Homo sapiens: one gene and its partners. The protein of the gene in region 3 purifies or fractionates together with the protein of the main gene of each other region. This does not show direct contact. Each region holds a gene or a part of one and is shown on either strand. Other genes may lie near its edges. The genes, in order: RASA1, CD5, ZAP70, ACP1 and HAVCR2.

Region 1 (3,519 bases), on a different chromosome or scaffold from region 3:
TTTTAGTTTTCCATTACTTTTACGATAAAATCCAAACCCCATAGTAATGACACAGAACGAAGGCCATACCTTATATTTGAAGTGCTCTTTTTTCTTTTTTCACTACTTTTCTTCTTAGCTACACCTCTAGATCTCGTCCGCTCAAGGGTTACCTGTTTAAAGTGGAGTTTTCACCTCCACAGGCTGAATTAGATATTATTTCTCTGTACTCGAATAGCATTCACCACTGTTAACAGCACTTACCAGTGCTGAAACATAATTGATTTCTTGCCTTCTTGACTAAACTGACCTCTATGCAACTCAAAGAACACATCTCAATCATCTCTGTACTCTCTACCTATCAGAGTTTAGTGCACCGTAGACACTCAGTAAATAAACAACTAAATATTGAATTTGTGATGTTACTGAAAACTCCTTTAATGAAAAGCATTTAACACCATAGGGAAGACTGAACACCAGGAAAATTTACTTGCATGACTAATTATCGTGTTCTCTTTTTAAACAATAATTGCTTGTTTTTCTTCCCAAGTATTTATGCGCTGCCAGTTGAGCCGATTACAGAAAGGGCATGCCACAGATGAATGGTTTCTGCTCAGCTCCCATATACCATTAAAAGGTATTGAACCAGGGTCCCTGCGTGTTCGAGCACGATACTCTATGGAAAAAATCATGCCAGAAGAAGAGTACAGTGAATTTAAAGAGGTATTAAATTATTTATCAGTCTTGTTTTTGTTGGAATTAACAGAAACATTTAACATTTAATAAAAGATCCATTAAGGTAAACATAGTAATTCATAGCTTAGTAGCACAATGATGCCAGAGATTTTAAACCTTGTTTTATACTGTAATTTTGGTAGAAATAAGTAGACTACGAATTCATTCTATTTTAAATAAATTTATTCAATGGGACATCATTTTAAATATAAGAACTTGTGAAAGAACATATTTCTTGTTAGTCTCATGGAGCATGCTTATAATGCTACGTACTTTAAACAATCTTTTAAAATGTCATTTTAGCTTATACTGCAAAAGGAACTTCATGTAGTCTATGCTTTATCACATGTATGTGGACAAGACCGAACACTACTGGCCAGCATCCTACTGAGGATTTTTCTTCACGAAAAGCTTGAATCGTTGTTGTTATGCACACTAAATGACAGAGAAATAAGCATGGAAGGTATGGTATGGCCATGTTAGTGTGATACAAGAAACTGGGTTTAGATTTTATATCAAGGATATATGGACTCTATCTCTGAATATACTAAATTGTTAAATTATATTGCAAAATAAGTTATTCTGTTTTCCCTCCTTAAAAATTGCAGTTGGATGTCAGTTCTGATTATGTTGGTTACTATGGGAAGCTGATATTTCTAATGTAGGTTTTGGCAGATAAGTACTAGAAGCCACAAGAAGGTGGTATCTGTGTCTACATCAATGGCTTGACTGTTTGGCATATTTATCTGTATTCTCTTGTTTTTTATTTTCTTTTGAGATGGCATCTCAGTCGCCCAGGCTGCAGTGCAGTGGCGCAGTCTCGGCTCACTGCAACCTCTACCTCTCAGGTTCAAGCGATTCTCCTGCCTCAGCCTCCTAAGTAGCTGGGACTACAGGCATATGCCACCACACCCAGCTAATTTTTTATTTTATTTTTTTAGTAGAGACGGGTTTTCACCATGTTGGCCAGGCTGGTCTTGAACTCCTGACTTCAGGTGATCCGCCTGCCTCAAGCCTCCCAAAGTGCCGGGGTTACAGGTCTTGTTTAATTTTTACTTCTTCATTACACAGAAGCTGGGTGTCAGCTGCATTTTATTTCTAACTTTTATAGATAGGTAGTTCCCAAGCTGCTGGACACAGTGCTTTTAATGGCTTACAAAATAATCCACCCTCCCCCTGGCCCACACACACCACCAAGCACTTTGATTCATTAACAGTTCTTGCTTCTAGGTTCCCCAAATAAATAGTAAAGTTTAGAACTATTTTCCTCCTCATCACAAAATATAGATTTGTCAAGGAATAGATAAAATGGTGGTCCTTATTTTACACTTGAGTTTATCTTTTCTGACAGCATTTGTATTTCATTAAAATTTTACTGAAACTCAGTAGACATATTTTAAGCTAATAAATTAATCTATACTGGGATTTTGTGTTATATCCTTAATTGTAAATAAACCCTAAAATTTCAAAGCATGGGGTCAATGGGCAGCAAAGCTGATTTATGGTCCTAATTTTATCATTAGCTGTCTAATTGATCTTAAGTCATATAACAATTCTGAGTCTTCATTTTTCCATATGAACATGGCAGTGTTAATCCCTTCTGTTCATGATCTAATGAGGTAATACATATGAAAGTCTTACAGAGTTAAGTCTGTAGAAGTATAGGATGTCATTGTAATTAGTACTTTCAACGCTGCACGCAAAAAGCACATTTAAGTGGCTATTCCTGTTGAGGTAAAATGAATTCACTTAATTTCCAATTTGGTCACATTAGGTCAGTCCTTTACAAATAATCTTCTAATGTAAATATTTGTGTAGATGAAGCCACTACCCTATTTCGAGCCACAACACTTGCAAGCACCTTGATGGAGCAGTATATGAAAGCCACTGCTACACAGTTTGTTCATCATGCTTTGAAAGACTCTATTTTAAAGATAATGGAAAGCAAGCAGTCTTGTGAGGTAAGAATTTAATGTTTTAATAAGTATTTTTGCAAAGAACATATTTTAATAGGTAATAATTTGTAGCCAATTACATTTTAAGGAAAATATATTAAATTTCTAAAATTATTCCTCATAGCAGTTACACCTGTCTGTAATACATTTATAAAAATGTTCTGCAAAATGGACTTCTTAAAAAAGATGTACTTTATTTTGGGATTAAAAACCATCAAGTTGCACCAGAAATTCATGAAAATACTTTGTCATTTCCTCTACTGTACTAATAATCTATATACTACTTACAGAAAGCGTGCATAAGATAAATTGAAGGTTTTGTTAGTGACTCATTATATAACCTATGTAGCACTTCATTACATCTTGGTTTGTTCTTGAAGGTTTTTTTGCGAGGGGAGAATTATGAGATAACCTCAACTAAAACAAAAAAATCTTTTTAGGATTATTAAAGTTTCAGTATAAATTCATAATACACTATTAAGACAGTAAGTGGAATCTCACACACATATTCTCTCATTTTAATGGTAAAGCAACTACAAAGAAATAATATATATTAGATCTGATATAAAAATCAGTTTAAGGAATTGTTTTTGACAATGGACACTGGGACCTAGCAAATGTTAATCCTGCACGAAGGTGTCGATTCATACTAATAACTTGAAGGGAAGAAATTAGTGATTTAATGTTGGAAATGTGGGGTAATGCCATAGTTGGCCTAACATAAGGATGACACAGAAGTGCAGCAGGTAGGTAGGGAGTCTCTGGACTTTAGAGATAGGCTACGGAATTCCGACTTCCATAGATAAATGTACTCTGCTGACACTAGATCAGAAGGGTTACAGGAAAAGTT
Region 2 (3,519 bases), on a different chromosome or scaffold from region 3:
CAATCCAATGGAAGATCCAGAACTCAAGCTGTACCTCCCTGGAGCATTGCTTCAGGAAAATCAAGCCCCAGAAAAGTGGCCGAGTTCTTGCCCTCCTTTGCTCAGGTAAGTGAGACCTGGCCAAGCCCCATGACACCTTCTGCTGCCCTAGGTGGGGTCACAGAGCATCCCAGAAGGTCAGGGAACATGTGTGCAGCACAGGGCACTATGGAGAATACAAGGGAAGTGGAGGCCTGGTCTTGGCCTCTAAGAGGTAACAAGGGTTGGGGTGGGGAGGATGCATCCACACTCAATGCCTTGGTAATCTCTGCAAAGCTACACACCCCAAGCCCAAAGGAACCGCTGGCTCAGCTGCCACATGGGGAAGGGGAGTCGGCAGGACTTCCAGGAGGAGGCAAGGTCTCTTCGTGGGTCTGGGGGAGAAAAAAAAATGTCTAGGTAGGAATTATGGCTTGTGCCAAAGATGGGGCACTTGGAGGGGTGGGCCTTGCAGGAAGGGCATTTGTAAATCCCAAGAGTTGGCATTGCAGCAATGGTGAGAGGTGGGAGGTCCCTGAGGCCCGGGAGTCAGAGGACAGCAGGCAAAGAGAGAAACAGAGACAGCCCCCAAGAGGGCTCTGCAGAGGGTCCTGCGCCGTGTGCTGACAAGGTAAAGAGAATGATGCCGCTGTGTGGTTGAGGGGAGGAGGCAGGTGAGACTGAGTCTGTGAGACCCCGGTGGGCCAAACCAGGATCAATGAAGAAAACTAAAGGGAAGAAACCACAGCTGAAACGAAGGGAGAAACGGAGAAACTTCGCAGTACGCCTCCCTCCGGAAGTAGTGGGTTCCCATGGCCGGAAGTGTTCTCAGTGAAGTCCACACTGTACTTACCGAGAGCTTACTTCATGCAGGGACCATTCCTGGACATTCTAAATTTTTCACATGGCCTTAGGAGGTGGGTGTTATTATTATCATCCCTTTTTACAGTGAGGAGGCTGAGGTTTAGAGAGGCTAAACCTCTCGCCCAGTACTATGGAGCACTTGCTGGGATTTCTGTTCAAGCAGGGTCACTCTAGAGCCTGTTATCTGAGCCTTGGTGACTCAGTGTGGTCCTGGAACAGCAGCAGCTGGTTAGAAATGCAGGTGCTCAGGCCCCAGCCTGGACCTTCCGAATCAGAATCCACTTTTCAGCAAGGTCCTCAGTGATTTATGTGCACAAATCTAGGAATCACTGCTCGGGGCCACCTGGCTGTCCTGCAAGCACGCTGGGTACCTGGTGTAAATTAGTAAAATGCTGCCCCTCCCCCAGCAGAAGCAGCTCCCAAGGGGCTCTTGGCCTGATGAGGAGAGCAGGGGCTGGCTCGCAGTCCCACCGGCCCCTCAGCTACTATCCTTCCTGCAGGCTACAACCTGTAAAACCATACCCAGGGTTCTTGCCTTTGAAGCTTCTTCTAAATAGATTTACTAGGGCTTTGAAGGTGGATGTTGCTATGGGAACTGGGCAAAGCTGGTGAGATCACAACTCTCTCTAAACTGAGCATGTGTGGGCCTCAGCTACAGACTCCCAGGCCCCACCCTGGCAGGCAGAAATAAATGTGTGCCTCTGTTGAGCCAGGCCCCACTTGCTGAAAGCCTGGCCCTCAGCGTTCAGTGCCTGGGCAGCACGATCTGTCCCAACTGTGAACTGCCAGGACTCAGGGCAGTAGGTCTTTCCAACCCCCAGGCCTCAGTTTCCCTCTTCTGAAAAGTCCTCCTTCTTCCCAAAGTGCAGCGGGATAATGACAAGATGTTTCCAAGTGAGAAGTGGACCTAGGTGGAGCCTATTTCCCACGCTCTTCTCTTATCTCCACCTGGCATGGAGCCGACTCCCTGCTGGTGGCTGCCAACAGCCTCCCTGCAGAAAGCGCCTATGCTGCTGTGTCTCAGGATGGTGCTGGCAGCTGCCCAGAGGCACCAGAGACAGTGCTGGGTCAGGGGAAGAGCCACAGAGGGTGCCAGAAGGAGGGAAGGGCAGAAAAGAAGGCTGCCTCTCCTGGTGGTCCCACACAGTGCCTTCCCCTAGCCAGGGCCCCGATTTGCCAGTGGCATGGGGCCCCAGGAAGCAGCACACAGGCTCAGGTTCACACTTGCACCCTCCTTTCCCATTGCTTCCCCTCTCAGGTTTCCAGCCCAAGGTGCAGAGCCGTCTGGTGGGGGGCAGCAGCATCTGTGAAGGCACCGTGGAGGTGCGCCAGGGGGCTCAGTGGGCAGCCCTGTGTGACAGCTCTTCAGCCAGGAGCTCGCTGCGGTGGGAGGAGGTGTGCCGGGAGCAGCAGTGTGGCAGCGTCAACTCCTATCGAGTGCTGGACGCTGGTGACCCAACATCCCGGGGGCTCTTCTGTCCCCATCAGAAGCTGTCCCAGTGCCACGAACTTTGGGAGAGAAATTCCTACTGCAAGAAGGTGTTTGTCACATGTGAGTTGGCCACAGCCCACAGTGGGTGGAAGCAGTTACTACTTTACCTCTAGGACCCGGTCAGGGTGCATGTCTCTAAAGGGAAGCCCTGGGGAGCTAGACAGAGAGTCCCAGAGACCCAGAAAGGATGGAGACAGGGAAATTGGAAGGCTAGGGAGCAAGAGTACTCAGACAGCAATGGGCATGAACAATAATAGGAGACAGGGCAAGCAACAGGCAGATCACTGTCAGGCAGCTGATGAGTCATAGAACTTCTCCTTCTACCTTCTACTTTTGCAAGGTGGAAGCCAGAAAATCAAATGGTAGATAGCACATATTTGCTACATGAATGGTAACTAAACGGGAAGTAAAAGAGAGAAATGGATGGATGGATGGATGGATGGATTGGTGGGTGGGTGGGTGGGTGGGTGGATGGATGGATGGATGGATGGATGGATGGATGGATGGATCGGTGGGTGGGTGGATGGATGATGGATGGATGGATGGATGGATGGATGGATGGATGGATGGATGGATCAGTGGGTGGGTGGATGGATGGATGGTTGGATGGATGGATGGATGAGTGGACTGATGGATGGGTGAGTGGATGGATGGATGGATGGATGGACAGAAGGGCGGATGGACAGATGGATGGATGGATCAAGAATAGAGGCCCCGCTGGCTATTGGTATGCAATCATATATTGGTTTCTGATGGTATATGATGGCAAGGTGATCACTAATAACTGGCAAATGGTAGAAAATTAAATAGCTTATAACAAGTGTGGCAAATGATAGCTAGATGATCAACTGTTAGATGACAAATGGTGGGTGGGTGAGTGGGTAGCAGGGAATCCTAGAGATAGATGGAGGGATAGCCAAATAGATCATTGCCTTCCGTGCATGCTGGTGAATTTCTCAGATGAGCAAGGATGACGGCGGAAGCCAGGCAGCCAGCAGCTTCCCTCCCACAGTTTTTCTCCCCCCAGGACTGGGACTGACCTAACTCTTCCTCCTTCCCCAGGCCAGGATCCAAACCCCGCAGGCCTGGCCGCAGGCACGGTGGCAAGCATCATCCTGGCCCTGGTGCTCCTGGTGGTGCTGCTG
Region 3 (3,519 bases):
CTCTGCTTGTGTCATGTTTGCTAATGTCCTGTTAGCAAGGCACATGGTCAAGCCCTGATTCAGAAGACAGAGGAGGAGGCCCCACCTATTGATGGGAAGAGCTCCCTAATATTGTGGCTGTTTTCCCCCAGTATTCCACATGGAAGTTTAAATAAACAAATAAGGAGGAAATTATTAGTTCTAGAAGAAAGAATGAAAGAGACAGACAGACTTGGTGGCTCACGCCTGTAATCCCAGCACTTTGGGAGGCCGAGGCAGGTGGATCACGAGGTCAGAAGATTGAGACCATCCTATCTAACACAGTGAAACCCCATCTCTACTAAAAATACAAAAAATTAGCTGGGCGTGGTGGTGTGCACCTGCAGTCCCAGCTACTTGGGAGGCTGAGGCAGGAGAATGGCATGGACCCAGGAGGCAGAGCTTGCAGTGAGCCGAGATCACGCCACTGCACTCCAGCCCGGGCTGTGGAGCGAGACTCGGTCTCAAAAAAAAAAAAAAAAAAAAAGAGACAGAGGAGGGGAGATGGGAGGTTTGCTGTTTGCTGGTGAGTGGCTTGGCATGGAGTCTCTGTTGTCAGTTTAAAACTTCAGGTTGTGACCCTTAGGAGGTGTTTTCACTTCTCACAGTCCCTGGAGACCATCACCTCCAGGCCAGCCTGCCACCTGCCTCTGACTTCCACAGCTCTGAGACCCCCAGGGCCAATAGCCCTCCCTCCTCACTGGAAAGCTGCACTTAACAGGAGCTTGTGCCAGTGACTCAAAATAGAAATGTTTTGTGGGAGATGTTGACTGGTGTCACTGCGGGGTTTCACGTGACGGCGCTGCATCTGCTGTCCCAGCCTACTGTCTCTGTGGGATGTTTGTTTCCTAATTTGTGGTGGGTTCTCTTCCTTGCCCTTTTGTGTGCCCTCATTGCCCCCGCCCTGATTTCCCATCTCTCCATGTTATCTCCAGACTGTTGTGGGCTAGCCTGGGAACTGCCCCACCCTTCACTGCACTGTACTTCGGGGAACGTGCTGTCCAGGAATGGAGAGGATGGTCACAGCTGCACCTCTCTCCCTCACTCAGGGGACATTTCCTAAGGAAGGGCCTTATTGCAAGGTGGGCCCATGGCTGCCTTGCTCACTGCCATATCCCTGCGCTGAGAACAGTGCCTGGCCTGTCAGTAAAGACTTGTCCAGTGAATGAACATCCACAGGCAGGGCCAGGCCTGGTCTGAGAATTTGCACCTTGGAGGGTGCAGCTCGCAGGCCATCACAAGGGCTCTTCTGTAGTGCAGTGCAATCCCTGAGATCAGGAGTCGGCTGCTTCCGGCCTCCACAGCTTCCACGGGGCCAGCTGCCCTCCCTCCTCACTGTAAAGCTACACTTGACCCTGCAATAGAGGCTTGTGCCAGTGACCCCAGACAAAACTGTTGTGTGGGGGATGCTGACTGGTGTCACTGTGGGGCTTCATGCGAGGGTGCCGGTGTCTGACACTAAGTTGGTCTGTGTTGAGGGGGGATGTGTGTACTCAGGGCTGGAGCGGATGGGGGGACAGTTTCTTACCCCACAAATGCACCACCTTTGAGGGGCTCAATTCCCATCATAGACATGGAAGATTTATATATTTATATTGACAAAATTCCAGCAGAAGGCAATCGAGGGTCTCATTCTAGGAAAGGTCCATCTATTATGGAACTGGTCAGTCTCGTGATGAGAAAGTGACTTGTTTTGATTTGCACAGGGGTGCCCTGTAAGCTTGTCATGGAGCTGCGCCTACCTGTGTGGGTCTGTGTGGAAAAGGCTTTCTCTCCCCAGGAGAATGGTGCTAGGTCTACCTGTTGAAGGCTCTGGGTCTGTTGTAGAAGGCCAAGTGCCCCCCATGGTTGGCTGACTGTATGGCCGAGTGTACCCCCAATGAGTGCCTGTGGATGACTATCTCTCTGTGGATGGCAAGTGTCTGGCCGTGGATGGCCAACTGTTCAGCCATGGGGGACCAGGTGTTCCCCAGTGGATGGGTGTCCCCTCCTCCGTGGCTGGGTGTCCACCGTGGGGGGTCAGGTATTCCCCGTGAATGGCCATCTGTTGGCTCTTGGAGAACAGTGCATTTTCCTGGGAACACAGCCATGGCCCCTCCACCGCCCTCTGCCACTTGGCCCATCATCAGCAGATCTGGAGGTGATGGGGGCCTGGCCTGGCTTCCCCAGTCCCTGCAGCTTCTCTGCAAGGCTCTGAGGTGTGGAGCCCATAGGGTGTGTTGCGGGGGAACCGGGGCACAGCAGGAGGCCCCCAGGTGGCTCTAGGGGTTACATCCCCTCCCTTCCCCTGCCAGGCTGAGGCCGCGGAAGGAGCAGGGCACATACGCCCTGTCCCTCATCTATGGGAAGACGGTGTACCACTACCTCATCAGCCAAGACAAGGCGGGCAAGTACTGCATTCCCGAGGGCACCAAGTTTGACACGCTCTGGCAGGTAGGCTGCCCGTGCAACTTGTTCTGGGAGATGCCGTGCTCAGATGGGGTGCCGGGCTCTGGGGAGGAGAGGAGCCTCTCTGCTAGCTGCCTGCTCCCTGCAGCTGGTGGAGTATCTGAAGCTGAAGGCGGACGGGCTCATCTACTGCCTGAAGGAGGCCTGCCCCAACAGCAGTGCCAGCAACGCCTCAGGTGACGGCAGCAGGCGGGCGGGCGGTGGGCGGGGGCGGCAGGAGACCTGGCCCCCAGCCCTCACTGTCCCTTCTGCTCCCCCAGGGGCTGCTGCTCCCACACTCCCAGCCCACCCATCCACGTTGACTCATGTGAGTTGGGGGCACCTGGAGTGTGGCCTTGGGGATGGAGCTGGGGAGTGGCTGTGGGGGAGGCTGGGATGGAGGCTGGGGTGCCTGTGGAGCGGAAGAAGCTCTCTCTCCACTGTCTCTGGGAGTCCTCAGTGGATATAGGTCTCATGAGAGGGGCTGGACGTCCCCAGCTCAGGCCTTGCTGACCCTGTGGCCTTTAGCCTCAGAGACGAATCGACACCCTCAACTCAGATGGATACACCCCTGAGCCAGGTGAGCGGGCAGAGGTGGGGACGCGGGTTGGGGCTCATGCTGAGCCGAGATCAGGGTCGCTGTCAGGGCTGTGGGGTTTCACGGGGGGCGCTGTGGGCCGGGCCAGGCTGTGGCAGTTGGCTTGGTTAACACCTGTGCACACATGTGCCCACACCCATCACACCTGCCTGTGCACATGTACGTCCCAGTGTGTACTGACGTGCAGGGAGCACACTTGGCCTTGCCTGAGGCTCCCCAGACACACGTTTGTTGAGTACCTACTATGTGTCAGTCACGTTCCGAGGTCACTGTGTGTATGAGCCACCGAACCCTCCTGACATGCCTTATGAAGTGGCTATGGTGATTAACCTCACTTTACAGATGAGAGAGGGAGGGGTCTGTCTATGGGGATGTGAGGCAGTGGTAGAGGCGGGATGTGAACCCACGATGGGCCCCAGAGCTCACATTCCTAAAATGGTCTGCTGCGGGTGCTCCTGTTTCTCATGGGTGGGCCC
Region 4 (3,519 bases), about 97 Mb from region 3:
AATTTTCACATGTCACAAGGTACTCTACTTTTAGATTTTTTCCAACTACTCAACAATGTAAAAATTATTCTTACCGCTGTGGGCTGTACATAAAGGCAGTGGACCATGAGCCGATTTTCAGACCCCTGTTTTAGGTCCAGATCTTGGGAGGCCATGTGAAGACTTGGGCTTACTCTGAATAAACATTGGAGGGTTTTGAGCAGAGGTGGGAAGTGATCAAATTTAAGTTTAAAAAAGAAGAGTTTCAGCTGTTGTTTTGAGATGAAACTGGAGGTGGAGCATGCCTTTACTGGTTGCATTCTGAGGGAATTTGAGCGGTAAATGGCATTTTACTTGGTAGCCATATAGAGGACAGTAAGAGTTGTATGCTTTTGAAATGTAAAAAACTTTGTTCATTCAAAGCATTTGTTTGGACCCTATTGAGATTGAAGTGTAGAAAAGCATCAGAGGTTTTTCATTGGTGAAGCTAATGATGGAAAATAATTGAGCTCCTTACTACAGCACAATTATGAAGGGTGCTTTATGTTTTTGCAATAGAGACTTATTAGTGAAGATGATGCAGGAGCCATGACCCAGCCAGCATGGTTGGTGGAGATAGCACATGCTGGTGGAGTCACTTTACTTCTGGGCTACACCCATACTGGGTGCTGGGTCTCTTACCAGGTATAGCAGACACAGCCCCACCCTCCCAGAGCCTATCTGCCTTTTATGAGTCTCCATCCTTGAATTGAAGATGCTGAAGAAGGGTATAAAATAGTCTGCCTAATTTGGAAAAGACAAACTTGAGACTTTACAGATTGAAACATTTTTTAAAGGCATTTGAAGATGGAATGTTCTGTTTTTAGAACTTGTTTGATAGGCGAAACCTGAAGTACATGCAGTGTTTCACTGATGACCGGGGTGCTCCATTTTTTCATAACAAAATTTGGTGGCATCAACTTTCGAAATCAACAGGGCAAGCTACTGCTAGCCTTTAGGACAGTTAATAATGCAAGTTTTCATATTGTTGTGGGGAAAGTAAGCTGTTATTTTACAGTTAAAGATAATTATTTGTAAACGTGTGGGGCTAGTCTTTATTATATTTTTAGATGCTGAGATACTAGGCATCTGTTGTTCTACAGATCCAAAATAATAATTGTCTTAATTTGGAATACAATGTTTGCTGTTAAAAATATTCCCAGGGTATATGGTGACAAGTAAAAGAGTTACACACCCATGGGAAGCCTTTCAATAATTAAAATAGTGCTGATGACAATACCTGTTTAGAAAACTAAACAAAATTTAGAATGTCGAAAGGAAAAACTTCACAACACAAATTAGCATATAGAGGGTATTCAAGGCTAATTTGTTGTCTTTCCCTTTATGGTTTGTAGGTAAGATTTTTTACTGCTGTGGAAACTACAGTCTCTGTGGGAAAAAAGTACGTAATATGCTTAGGTCTTACAATGTAGAAACTGAAGGCTGTAGTAAGGCAGTGAGTTGGTTTTCTGAACTAGGGAATTAGCTGTGTTTTACAACACTAGAAGATCCTCATTGTATTTGTTTATCATAAACAGAAGACCCTAATAGTGATAAAGAGTAAACTCTTAGTTAGTGCTGCCTATTCTCACAGTTCCTCTTTTTCGTATCTGTTTCCTAAATTCAGCTCCTAATGTCTGGACTCAGTGTGGTGCTTTGGCATTAAGGAGACTGGAAGGCCTCAGAGCAGCCCCAGAAGCAAGGTCGTAGAAACCATCATTTATCTTCCCCAGCGCAGATCATAGAAACTAGAACTCCTCTCCTGCAAAGCAAGCCATAAAACCTAGAAAGATCACTCTCTCCCTTTTGCCTTCTCTTGAAGACAGCATTTCAGAGGGGCCCTGCCTCATTCCTGGGGGAGGAAATGCTGTGGCCCTGCTGGGTTTCCCTCAGTCTGCTACCATTGGATCATTTCCTTTTGTCCAGTGCCATTTCTACACAGCTGTGCATTGGTCATCTAAGCATCAAAACCGTTTCCCTGGGTCTTTGGGTCTTCATTTCTGAAGGCTCTTGTTAACCTGTCTTTTGTTACAGGAGTATCTTCCATGACCTTTATGATGGGTGAGGAAAGCTGCCACACCTTTCCACTCTGACACTGTCTTGTATTTGCTCCTTCATACGAGCCTCTTACAAGGTCTCTCCAATTCAGTCATGTGCTCTTCTAGTGTTTCCTTAGCTGTGCCGGTAATTTTGGTAACTTGTAGGAAGGGTCTGTGTTTTAAACAACTTTCTGTCTTCAGGTTAGGGCACAGTGCTTGGCACATAGAGTTGGCATACAAAATATGTTTGTTGAATAAGTCATATTACCCTTTTCCATAGGACTTTCTATTTCTCCTCATAGTGGCTACGCAAAGTTCAAATGTTGGCCCAGTGTTTTAGGGCTCCTGTATACCAGCCCGTCAGTTTCCAGACACTGGCTCTCTGTACCTGAAGCATCGCAGCCTCACCTGCTTAGTGCCACAATCCCTCTGAGTTAAATGCCTTTCCCTTCCTCTGTCCATTAAGATCCTGATCATCCTTTTAATATCATCTCTAATCTTTCTTTTTTCTGGTAAGAAATTTTCTTATATCTTGTTTTTGCTTTGTAGCATCGTTCTTTTTCTGTGCTGCTGTAGTGTATTGTTTATCAGCATTCATTTTCCCACTTTTATTATAATAAATATAATAAATAAAGTGGAGATAGAGTTCAGCTGAATGGCCAGTGATTCAACCCATTGTGTCTCCCTCCGAAAACCCCAATAAAACCTCAGAGCACTATGGCTCTGAGGAGCTTCCTGGGTTGGCAGTGCTCTTTGAATATTGTCTCATGTTGATGACAGGAGAGTAAGGTGTCCCAGAGGACAGTGGAGCTACCTGTTAGGGAACCTCCCAGAATGTGCCCTATAGGTCACTTGCTTTGGCTGTTTTGTTTGTTTGTTTGTTTTTGTTTTTGTTGCTGTTACTATAATGAAATTGTAATGGTAAGTGTTCTGCTTTCCTGAGTTTGGGGAGTAATTCTAGGGAATTATCAAACCTGAGGGAGCCCTGGGGAACCTGGATTTCTCACTTGCTGGTCTAAAGTAAGGATGGCCCTGATGTCGACATCGTGGTCTGGAGAGTGGTGTCCCTGACCTTGGGCTGCTAATGCCTGGATCTGTATCCCTGGGCTCAGGGCTTTGCATGTGATCGCTCAGTAAATGTTGGTGTTGAATCGCTGTTTATGCTTAAATGCATGTTTGTGTGTTTGTGTATTGTTTTGTGAAACAGTAGTCATCCTTATGTGTGATATACTTGAAAATACATACAGTTGACCCTTCAGCCACAGGGGTTTGAACTTTGAAGGATTTATTCGAGGAATTTTTTTAATCAAGCACAGATGGAAAATACCGTGTTGTCTGAATGAGAAACCCATCTGTATGGAGGGCTGACTTTTCCTATACTTGGGCTCCACATTCTCAGGGGCCAACTATAGGACCTGAGTATGCACGTTTTGGTATACTGGGTAGGGGTGGGAGGGTGTCC
Region 5 (3,375 bases), on a different chromosome or scaffold from region 3:
TTGTACACACACATATATGCCACTCCAAAAAAACATGGCTACTGAGAAGTACAGATAAGAAAGGCCTGTTTCATTTCCAATCTTTTCCCTGGAAGTTGCTGGAGAAAATATTAAAATCAAGGTGACAGCTTTTTAAGTCATGACCTCACAAAAACAAACTGACACTCAATAATGCCCCACAATCTTCCATCTTTCTAGTGTACTCTCTGAGATGACCATCCATACCTCACTGCTGCTCAAAACTTCTTTGCCCCTCTCCTAACTGATGAAATATGAAAGGGCTTTTTAATCTCCATTGCCTAGGCCAAGACTTCATCCTTCTTTTTATCCCTTTCTTCTGAGTCATCTCTCTCCTTTTCTGTTTATGCTATTTTCATTAGCAGAATATATGTTCTAGTCCATGCATTCCTCTCCAGCTAGTCCCATTTCTCAACTCGTTCTCACAGCCATATTTTTCAAAGGAGTTGTCTCTACTTTTCACCCATCTACACTCCTTGACCCACCATCATCTAGTTTCTGCTCCAAAGCACAACGGAAATGGTCAAGCTCACCACTGACCTTCAGTTTTCTAAATTAAATATTAACAGATACCTTTATCTTTTTTTTTTTTTTTGAGACAGAGTTTCACTCTTGTTGCTTAGGCTGGAGTGCAATGGTGCAATCTTGGCTCACTGCAACCTCTGCCTCCCCGGGTTCAAGTGATTCTCCCCCCTCAGCCTCCTGAGTAGCTGGGATTTCATGCATGTGCCGCCATGCCTGGCTAATTTTGTATTTTTAGTAGAGACGGGGGTTTCACCATGTTGGCCAGGCTGGTCTCAAACTCTTGACCTCAGATGATCTGCCCGCCTTGGCCTCCCAAAGTGCTGGGATTATAGGCGTGAGCCACCGTTCCCAGCCTGATACCTTTATCTTTATTATAGTCAACCTTTTAAATTGATCACTCATTCTAGAAAGTCCTCCTTCTCTTGGCTTCTGAAATGACATTCTTCTCTTTGATCCATTGCTTTTCAGATCTTCTTCTGCCTGATCCTTAGATGTTGAGATTCCTTAGGGCTGGGTATGGTGGTGCACGCCTATCGTCCCAGCTACTCAGGAGAATGAAGCAGGAAGATCACTTGAGCCCAGGAGTTTGAGGCTATGAACTATGATCTTGCTGCTGCATTCTAGCCTGGGTGACACAGCACAGGGAGACCCTGTCTCAGAGAAAAACAACAACAGAAGATTCCTGCAGTCTTCCTCCAACATACATCTAAAGTGTTTTCATTATTCTGCATCTCTTTTGGCCATTCCTTACTCCAAGACACCATTATTTCTACTTAATTTATCTTCTCATTTCTTTATTCCTCCTTCGAATCCAATATTAAAACCCAAATCAATGTCTGAGCACAATGGCTCATGCCTATAATCCTAACACTTCGGGAGGCCAAGACAGGAGAGTCACTTGAGGCCAGGAGTTTGAGACTAGCCTGGGCAACATATTGAGATTCACCCAGGCTGGAGTGCAGTGGTGTGATCATGGCTCACTGCAACCTCTACCTCCCGAGTTCAAGCAACTCTCCTGCCTCAGCCTCCAAGTAGCTAGGACCACGGGCATGTGCCAGCATACCTGGCTAGTTTTTGTATTTTTAGTAGAGATGAGGTTTTACCATGTTGCCCAGGCTGGTCTCGAACTCCCAAGCTCAAGAAATCCACCTGCCTTGCCTCCCAAAGTGCTAGGATTACAGGCGTGAGCCACTGCATCCAGCCCAAAAACATTAAAAAAAATTATCCAGCTGTGGTAGTGTGCACCTATAGTTCTAGCTACTCAGAAGCTGAGATGGGTAGATCCCTTGAGCCCAGGAGTTCAAAGTTGCAATCAGATATGATCTTACTACTGCATTCCAGCCTGGCCAACAGAGCAAGACCCTGTCTCAAAAAAAAAAAAAAAAAAAAAAAAAGAAAAGAAAAGAAAGGAAAATTTTAAGTTTCAAATTTTTGAAACTGCATCCCCAGAAGACACCTTGAAAGACCTTGATCCAGAGGTACCCAGTAAGCCACACCTGGATTCCTGACCCACAACACAGAAATGATGAGATAACGTAGTTGTTTTCAGCGGGTAAAAGAAACCCAAAACAAATAAGGATCACATCTCTGCCCTTCAAGGAAATCTAAGGTTTCCTACAGGTCTTAGAATAAAATCCAGACTCCTGATTATGGCTGGAAAGGTCTTATTGGACCTAGCCCCAGCCTACCTTTCAGACCTTATCTTGGGCCGCTCCCTTAATCCAGCCACGTTTTCAGTTTCAGGTACTCAGCAAGATCTTTACAAGGGGCTCCCTCATCCTGGAATGCTCCTTCTGGCTCTTTACTTGGCTGACTCATTTCAGAAACGAGCTTAAAGTTCATCTCTGAGGGTCCTTCCCTGACCACCCTCTCTATTATCTGTTTCACTATGATGTTGGTTTCCTTTATAATACATCATAATTTGAAATTATTTTGTTTTCCTATTTACTATTTCCTTTTTGTTGTTGTTTTTTTTTTTTTGAGACGGAGTTTCGCTCTCGTTGCCCAGGCTGGAGTGCAATGGCGCAATCTTGGCTCACCGCAACCTCCGTCTCCCGGGTTCATGTGATTCTCCTGCCTCAGCCTCCCGAGTAGCTGGGATTACAGGCATGGGCCACCACATCCAGCTAATTTTGTATTTTTAGTAGAGACGGGGTTTCTCCATGTTGGTCAGGCTGGTCTTGGGTCTGGGGTACTGTTTTCTTTTATTTCTTTGGTCTCCCACAGGAGAGCGTGAGCTTCGTGAAATTAGGGCTCACAATTCACTTTTATGTTCCTGTGTTCCTTGTGCCAGGCAAACTGCCAGACACATAGTAGAGGTCTCATAATATTTGTTAAATAAGAAAAATGCATCTTTATTATTATTTTCTAACACAGTCCATATAACTATCTAAGGCACACGTTGAGAGTTTCATTTAACTCAATCTGAGATGAGACCAGATTTCCCTAAACTATGCGTGCTTCCAGTGAACCTATTTGATTTCTTGTCTCATTTATTTTATGAATGCATTTTTATTGGCTTTTGTTTCCCCCTTACTAGGGTATTCTCATAGCAAAGAGAAGATACAGAATTTAAGGTAAGAATAATGGAATGGGGTTGGGAAAAGGTGAGAATCTTGGAAGTCCCTACTCTAACATGTCTGATCTTTTCTCTGAGAAATCCTGTCCTGGGGCTTTGAGATCTGAGTTTATACTTCCTTCTTTCTCTAGGTCTAGTTATGAAGTGAAAATGTAACATGCTACTGTGTGTACTTCCTGACACCTCTAGCTTCTTTAGTTCTAAAGTTAAGGTATAGAATTTATCACCCTAATAATACAACATGCTTATTCATC

Evidence for each region.
Region 1: the proteins of ZAP70 (region 3) and RASA1 purify together in Homo sapiens (affinity purification with western blotting, with the first as the bait; one study listed by BioGRID). This does not show direct contact.
Region 2: the proteins of ZAP70 (region 3) and CD5 purify together in Homo sapiens (affinity purification with western blotting, with the first as the bait; one study listed by BioGRID). This does not show direct contact.
Region 4: the proteins of ZAP70 (region 3) and ACP1 purify together in Homo sapiens (affinity purification with western blotting, with the first as the bait; one study listed by BioGRID). This does not show direct contact.
Region 5: the proteins of ZAP70 (region 3) and HAVCR2 purify together in Homo sapiens (co-immunoprecipitation; one study listed by IntAct). This does not show direct contact.

The regions. Positions count from the first base shown.
Region 1 is NC_000005.10:87,375,864-87,379,382, forward strand, and holds part of RASA1 (ras GTPase-activating protein 1), read left to right. Parts: intron 1-529; coding exon 530-702; intron 703-1,017; coding exon 1,018-1,177; intron 1,178-2,532; coding exon 2,533-2,675; intron 2,676-3,519. UniProt on the Homo sapiens protein: Inhibitory regulator of the Ras-cyclic AMP pathway. Stimulates the GTPase of normal but not oncogenic Ras p21; this stimulation may be further increased in the presence of NCK1.
Region 2 is NC_000011.10:61,119,471-61,122,989, forward strand, and holds part of CD5 (T-cell surface glycoprotein CD5 isoform 1 precursor), read left to right. Parts: coding exon 1-105; intron 106-2,140; coding exon 2,141-2,434; intron 2,435-3,436; coding exon 3,437-3,519. UniProt on the Homo sapiens protein: Lymphoid-specific receptor expressed by all T-cells and in a subset of B-cells known as B1a cells. Plays a role in the regulation of TCR and BCR signaling, thymocyte selection, T-cell effector differentiation and immune tolerance.
Region 3 is NC_000002.12:97,730,571-97,734,089, forward strand, and holds part of ZAP70 (tyrosine-protein kinase ZAP-70), read left to right. Parts: intron 1-2,312; coding exon 2,313-2,451; intron 2,452-2,554; coding exon 2,555-2,642; intron 2,643-2,726; coding exon 2,727-2,773; exon of another isoform or gene 2,774-2,973; coding exon 2,974-3,025; exon of another isoform or gene 3,026-3,519. UniProt on the Homo sapiens protein: Tyrosine kinase that plays an essential role in regulation of the adaptive immune response. Regulates motility, adhesion and cytokine expression of mature T-cells, as well as thymocyte development.
Region 4 is NC_000002.12:267,928-271,446, forward strand, and holds part of ACP1 (low molecular weight phosphotyrosine protein phosphatase), read left to right. Parts: intron 1-3,519. UniProt on the Homo sapiens protein: Acts on tyrosine phosphorylated proteins, low-MW aryl phosphates and natural and synthetic acyl phosphates with differences in substrate specificity between isoform 1 and isoform 2.
Region 5 is NC_000005.10:157,088,685-157,092,059, reverse strand, and holds part of HAVCR2 (hepatitis A virus cellular receptor 2 precursor), read left to right. Parts: intron 1-3,082; coding exon 3,083-3,119; intron 3,120-3,375. UniProt on the Homo sapiens protein: Cell surface receptor implicated in modulating innate and adaptive immune responses. Generally accepted to have an inhibiting function.